2 linked regions of the Homo sapiens genome follow. The protein of the gene in region 1 purifies or fractionates together with the protein of each later gene. This does not show direct contact. Each region holds a gene or a part of one and is shown on either strand. Other genes may lie near its edges. The genes, in order: MGRN1 and HSDL1.

Evidence for each region.
Region 2: the proteins of MGRN1 (region 1) and HSDL1 purify together in Homo sapiens (affinity purification with mass spectrometry; one large-scale study listed by BioGRID and IntAct). This does not show direct contact.

What each region holds. Positions count from the first base shown.
Region 1 is NC_000016.10:4,627,568-4,631,380, reverse strand, and holds part of MGRN1 (E3 ubiquitin-protein ligase MGRN1), read right to left. Parts: intron 1-3,813. UniProt on the Homo sapiens protein: E3 ubiquitin-protein ligase. Mediates monoubiquitination at multiple sites of TSG101 in the presence of UBE2D1, but not of UBE2G1, nor UBE2H. Plays a role in the regulation of endosome-to-lysosome trafficking.
Region 2 is NC_000016.10:84,138,517-84,142,329, forward strand, and holds part of HSDL1 (inactive hydroxysteroid dehydrogenase-like protein 1), read right to left. Parts: intron 1,742-3,813; exon of another isoform or gene 707-1,741; intron 1-706.

The sequences.
Region 1 (3,813 bases):
CCAAAATAAACCCTCACATTCATGGTTAACTGGTGGGGTTCTTGTCGCTGTTGTTTTGATTTTTAAGAGACATGGTCTTGCTTTGTTATCCAGCCACAATGCCTGGCTTAGGTCAACTAATTTTTGACAAAGGTGCAAAGGCAATTTGATGGGAAGATGATAGTCTCTACAACAAATGATACTAAAATAATTGAATTCCATCCACAAAAAAGGGGGGTTTAGATCTTTATCTCAAGCCATAAGTGAAACAAATTAATTTGGTCAGCTACAGCGGCTCACACCTGTAATCCCAGCACTCTGGAAGGCCAAGGTGGGCAGATTGCTTGAGTCCAGGACTTTGAGGCCAGCCTGGACAACACGGTGAAACCCTGTCTCTACAAAAAAAATACAAAAACTTTGCTGGGCATAGTGGTACACATACATAGCTGGGAAAACCCAGCTACTTGGGAGGCTGAGGTGGGAGAATCACCTGAGCCAGGAAGTCAAGGCTAGAGTGACATCATGCCGCTATACTCTAGCCTGAATGACAGAGTAAGACCCTATCTCAAAATTAAAAAAAAAAAAAAAAAAAAGAATTAACTCTAAATGGATCAAAGACCTAAATGTAAGAGCTAAAACTATAAAACTTCTAGAAAAGGCCGGGCACAGCGGCTCACGCCTGTAATCCCAGCAATCTGGGAGGCCAAGGCAGGCAGATCACAAGGTCAGTTTGAGATCAGCCTGGCCAATATGGTGAAAACCCCGTCTCTACTAAAAAATCCAAAAATTAGCCGGGCGTGGTGGCTCGCACCTGTAATCTCAGCTACTCAGTAGGCTGAGGTAGAAGAATCGCTGGAACCCGGGCAGAGGCTGCAGTGAGCTAAGATCATGCCACTACACTCCAGCCTGGGTGACAGAGGGAGACTCCATCTCAAAAAAAACCAACAACAACAACAACAACAAAATGCTAGAAAAAAATAGGAGAAAATCTTTGTGACCTTGACCTAGGCAAAGATTTCTTTTCTTTCTATTTGTTTTTTTTTTTTTGAGACGGCGTCTCACTCTGTCGCTCAGGCTGGAGTGCAGTGGCATAATCTCGGCTCACTGCAACCTCTGCCGCGCTCCGGGTTCCAGCGATTCTTCTGCCTCGGCCTCCCAATTAGCTGGGACTACAGGCACATGCTGCCACACCCAACTAATTTTTTGTATTTTAGGAGACATGGAGTTTCACCATGTTGCCCAGGCTGGTCTCAAACTCCTGAGCTCAGGCAATCCACCCATCTCAGTCTCCCAAAGTGCTAGGATTACAGGCGCGAGCCACTGCACCTGCGCTTTTTTTTTTTTTTTTTTTTTGAGATGGTGTCTCACTGTTTGCCCAGGCTGCAGTGCAGTGGCATGATCTTGGCTCACTGCAACCCAACTCCACCTCCCAGGTTCAAGCAATTCTCCTGACTCAGCCTCCTGAGTAGCTGGGATTACGGGCGTGCGCCATTGCGTCCAGCTCATTTTTGTATTTTTAGTAGAGACGAGGTTTCACCTTGTTGGCCAGGCTGGTCTCGAACTCCTGACCTCAGGTGATCCGCCCACCTCAGCCTCCCAAAATGCTGAGATGACAGGCATGAACCACCACACCCAGCCGCCTGTATGATTTTTTTTTTTTTTTTGAGACGGTGTCTCGCTCTTTCACCAGGCTGGAGTGCAGTGGCGCGATCTAGGCTCACTGCAACCCCCGCCTCCCGGGTTCAAACAATTCTCCTGCCTCAGCCTCCTGAGCAGCTGGGACTACAGGTGTGTGCCACCACGCCCAGCTAATTTTTGTATTTTTAGTAGAGATGGGGTTTCACCATGTTGGCCAGGATGGTCTCAATCTCTTTACCTCATGATCCGCCCACCTTGGCCTCCCAAAGTGCTGGGATTACAGGCGTGAGCCACCATGCCTGGGCCCAAGATTTCTTAAACATAACTCCAAAAGCAGTATCCACTTAAAAAGCAGTAAATGAGACTTCGTCAAAATTCAAAACTTTTGCTCTTCAAAAGAAACACCATTAAGAAAATTAAAAGACAAGCCAGACTGGGAGAAAATATTTGCAAATCACATGGCTGACAGGAGAATCCTATCCAGAACACATAAAGAACTCTTTGTTACAACTCCGTAAGATAAACAATCCAGTTTTTGAAAATTGGACAAAAGACTCAAATAGACACTTTTCACACACACACACACACACACACACACACACACACACACACATACGAACAGAAAGCAGGCCAGGTGCAGTGGCTCACCCCTGTAATCCCAGCACTTTGGAGGCTGAGGTGGGCAGATCACCTGAGGTCGGGAGTTCGAAACCAGCCTTCCCAACATAGTGAAACCCCGTGTCTACTAAAAATACAAAAATTAGCCTGGCATAGTGGCCAGTGCCTATAATCCCAGCTACTTGGGAGGCTGAGGCAGGAGAATCACTTGAAACCAGGAGGCAGAGGTTGCAGTAAGCCAAGATTGCACCACTGCACTCCAGGGCAACAGAGCGAGACTGTCTCAAAAAAAAACAGAAAAGGCTGGGCATAGTGGCTCACACCTGTAATCCTAGCACTTTGGGAGGCCAAGGCAGGCAGATCACCTGAGGTCAGGAGCTCGAGACCAGACTGGCCAATATGGTGAAACCTCATCTGTACCAAAAATTTAAAAATTAGCCGGGCGTGGTGGTGCGCACCTGTAATCCAAGCTACTCAGGAGGCTGAAACAGGAGAATTGCTTGAACCCAGGAGGCGGACGTTGCACTGAGCCGAGATCATGCCACTGCATTGCAACCTGGGCGACAGAGCAACACTCCATCTCAAAGAAAAAAGAAAGCAGATCGCTGATGGGCTGAGGGTGGGGGTTGGGGTAGGGACTCTGCAAACAGATGGAAGGAAACTTTTACAAGGGAAATGTCTGCAATTGTGGTGATGACTGCACAATTCTTTTTTTTGTTGTTGTTGCTTCAATGTCCCCTCCTTTTTTTTTTTTTTTTTTGGAGACAGAGTCACACTCTATCGCCCAGCTGGAGTGCAATGGCGTGATCTCGGCTCACTGCAAGCTTCACCTCCCGGGTTCATGCCATTCTCCTGCCTCAGCCTCCCGAGTGGCTGGGACTACAAGCGCCTGCCACCACACCTGGCTAATTTTTTGTATTTTTAGTAGACATGGGGTTTCACCGTGTTAGCCAGGATGGTCTCGATCTCCTGACCTCGTGATCCGCCTGCCTCGGCCTCCCAAAGTGCTGGGATTACAGGCGTGAGCCACCGCACCCACCCACAATTCTTTTTTTTTTTTTTTTTTGAGACGGAGTCTCACTCTGACACCTAGGCTGGAGTGCAGTGGCGCAGTCTCGGCTCACTGCAACCTCCGCCTCCTGGGTTCACACCATTCTCCTGCCTCAGCTTCCTGAGTAGCTGGGACTACAGGTGCCCGCCACCACACCCAGCTAATTTTTTGTATTTTTGGTAGAGATGGGGTTTCACGGTGTTAGCCAGGATGGTCTTGATCTCCTGACCTTGTGATCCACCTGCCTCAGCCTCCCAAAGTGCTGGGATTACAGGCGTGAACCACCGCGCCCAGCCTTTTTTTTTGAGACGGAGTCTCGCTCTGTCACCCAGGCTGGAGTGCAGTGGCGCAATCTCGGCTCACTGCAGCCTCCACCTCTCAGCTTCAAGCAATTCAGCCTGCCTCAGCCTCCCGCGTAGCTGGGACTATAGACGCCTGCCATCACGCCCGGCTAAATTTTTTTGTATTTTTAGTAGAGACGGGGTTTCCCCGTGTTAGCCAGGATGGTCTCCATCTCCTGACCTTGT
Region 2 (3,813 bases), about 80 Mb from region 1:
TAATTTGGTTGTGGTGATCATTTCACAAAGTATACATATATCAAATCATGTTGTACACCTTAAATTTATATAATTTTATTTGTCAATTATACTTCGATGAAGTTGGAAAAATATAAAATAATTTAAAAAAATTTTTAAGCTTTGTTTTCTCATCTCTGCAGAAAACTAAAACATCTGTGAACAAAACAAAACCACAACTGTCCCCAAACTAGGAAAAGAAGAGCAAGTCCCTATTATCTTTTAAGCATTTTCTACTTCTACAGGGCAGGAGTCATCAAAAACCTACAGGAAACGTTACAACTACAAAAGCGTCACGGGACAATTATGGTCAAAACTGCAAGTAGCAAAGTCACCTCTTCAAAGCACCACTGCTGTGGCCTGTAACATGATCCCACTCCACAGTGAAGGGGACTCCACCTAGCAGTGTAAAGGGCAATCAACTCAAATAGAAAAACCTTCATGTACCAAGAGTTCTGGGAGGAAAGTCTTGGCTGAAACATGGACATTACCAAGCTATCCAAATGCGTGTGACGTGGGGCGGGTGGTGAAAGAACACAAGGCAGACTGGCCAGGGTTTTAAAGAAGACAAAGCAAGCAGGATGGAAAAAAAGACAATCAAAGCATTAGCGAACGACAGTGTGGTGGGCACAGTAATGGCCTCCAGGGATATCTACAGCCTAATCCCCAGACCCTGTAAATACGTCACCTTATGTGGCCAAAGGGACTCCGTAGATGTGACTGAGTTAAAGACTCCGAGCTGGGGAGGGTGGGTCCAATGTCATCATGTGTCCTTGTAAGGGGGGCAGGAAGATCAAAGAGAGAGAGCCATGTGACTACAAAGGGAGAGGTCAGAGAGAGCTCGAGTTGAGGGTGCTCTGTGCTGCTGGTTTCGATAATAGAGAGAGGGGTGGGTCACCAGTGAAGGACGGGGGGTGGCCTCTAGAAGCTGGCAGAGGCAAGGAAAAGGATTCTCCCCTGGAGCCTCCAGAGGAACACAGCCCTGCTGACACCTTGACTTTAGCGCAGTCACAATGACTTCAGATTCCCATCTCCAGAAGGAAGAGACATCTGTGTCATTTTAAGCCACTACCTTTGTGGCAATTTGTTACATCAGCCACAGGGGATAAGGATAAACAGTGGGAGGAAGGGATGGATGAACAGTCAGTTCAGCTTTCAGGACAGCGAAGAGACAAGCTGAAAACTCTGCAACCTCCCTTAAGCCAAAACCACTATGTGTATTCAGGAGCCAGAAAGTCTCAGAGGTTCCTGCCATCTTTGACTGACCAGGGTAGACCTGAGGTCCTCCTCCTCACCAGCTGGGATTATCCAGCTTTTCAGTAAGGCTCCAGGGCGATGGCTGTTTTCATTGATGAAAACATTTTTCCAAATAAATCTTAATTTTTTCAGAGTGTGAATCTGTCTTGTGCTCAGTACTCCAAATCCTCTGTTCTTCCTGACGTTTCAAGTCCCATGTCTTCTCCTCCGTTCAATCACTTCCTAACAAGCACCAACAACATGTCAGCCCTGGGGAGAAACTTCCCTTCCTGTCCCTTCCCTTCCCAGGCCGTGGCACTGCCCCCACCTCTGAATTCCTCTCCACCTCTCTTACCCATGTGGCACTTAGCACACACTGCTTTGGATTCTATTTAAACACTCAACTTGCTTATATCTTGGTTTCTTGGTTGTCCAAGGAGAGCACAGGCCTCTGGAGGGCAGGAGATGTATAGAAAACGAATTTTTCTGTAACTAAAAGAAATTTTTGTTTTTAGGCCGAGTCTTGTTCTGTCTTCCAGGCTGGAGTGCAATGGTGCAATTTCTGCTCACTGCAACCTCCGCCTCCTGGGTTCAAGCGTTTCTCCTGCCTCAGCCTCCCGAGTAGCTGGGACTACAGGTGCCCTCCACCATGCCCAGCTAATTTTTGTATTTTTAGTAGAGATGGGGTTTCATCATGGTGGTCAGGCTGGTCTTGAACTCCTGACCTCAAGTGATCCACCCACCTCGGCCTCCCAAAGTGCTGGGATTACAGGCGTGAGCCACTGCACCTGGCAAAAATGTTTAAATATATACAAAAGTATGTAAAACCTATTATGCACAGTTCAAAGAATAATAAAACAGCCACTTAGCCACCAGCCTACTTAACAAAACCAGTGTCGTGGAAGTCCTGTATGCTGTTCCTCTGATTACAGCCCCTCCTCTATCCTGGAGGCAGCCTCTCTCCTAAATTCTGGGGTAGTCACTCCCTGACTCTTTTAACAAAACAGCTGTATACCCCAAGCATGTATTCTGAAACAGTAACAGTATTGCTGGCCGGGCGCGGTGGCTCACGCCTGTAATCCCAGCACTTTGGGAGGCCGAGGCGGGCGGATCACGAGGTCAGGAGATCGAGACCACGGTGAAACCCCGTCTCTACTAAAAATACAAAAAATTAGCCGGGCGCAGTGGTGGGCGCCTGTAGTCCCAGCTACTCGGGAGGCTGAGGCAGGAGAATGGCGTGAACCCGGAAGGCGGAGCTTGCAGTGAGCGGAGATCGCGCCACAGCACTCCCGCCTGGGCGACAGAACGAGACTCCGTCTCAAACAAAAAAAAAAACAGTATTGCTAAGTTTCGCCTGGTTTTGAACCTCACATAAAGGAACCACACCACATGGACCCTTTGGTGACTTGTTTCTTTCACTCAACATCATTCCCGAGACTCATCCATGCCCCTGCAGCTATATAGTCCATCCTCCTCGGCAGCTGCACAGTATCTCACGGTTCAGATGCACTGCAGTTCACAGGTCCCCCTGCTGCTGGTTCAGATACACCACGATTCACAGGTCCCCCTGCTGCTGGTTCAGATACACCACGATTCACAGGTCCCCCTGCTGCTGGTTCAGATACACCACGATTCACAGGTCCCCCTGCTGCTGGTGCTAGGCACGTGCACTGTTTCTGCTGGTTTTGATTTACAGTTAGGAACAGTGCTGCAGGGAGCGCTTGTCCCCATCTCCTGCACACCTGTGCAAGAGTTCGCAAAGGGATTTGCCCATGGTTTAACTGCTGGTCCACATGCATTCCACTGCCAAATGCTTTTGCAAAGCGGCAGAACCCATTCACACTCCCGCCAGCAGCAGGTTCGTGCCACTCCTCAATGTCACTGGCTGGTAGCGTCCAAAGCTTCACCTTCTGCCAACAGGGTGGCTGTGAAATGGTATCTCATTATGGTTTTAATTTACATTTCCCTGGTTACTAGTAAGGCTGCAGTCCTTTTTATATGTATGTGCTTTCTGTGTTTTGTAATCTATGAAATGCCCGTTCCTATCTTTTGTCCTTTCCTTTTTTTTCTCTCAGAATTGTAAGAATTCTTTAAATATTCTAGATACTAGCTCTCTGTATGTTTTGTGTCTCATTATAGTGTCTTTCATGAACTAAATGTGTTGTTATTATTATTGAGACAAGGTCTGGCTCTATTGCCCAGCCTGATGTGCAGTGGCATGATCACAGCTCACTGCAACCTCCGCCTTCCGGGCTCAAGCCATCCTCCCACCTCAGCATCTCAAGTAGCTGGGACACAGGCATGTACCACCAAGCCCAGTTAAATTTTTTTTGTGTGTGTAGAGATGAGGTTTCACCATGTTGCCCAGGCTGGTCTCAAACTCGTAAGCTCAAACCATTCACCTGCCTTGGCCTCCCAAAGTGCTGGGATTACAGGTGGGAGCCACTGCACCTGGCTGAATGTCTTAATTTTGAAAGAGACAAATATATCAATCTTTCTGCTTTAGGGTTTGTTTTATTTCAGAAATCCCTCCTTAGCCTCAGGTCATGAAGAAATTTT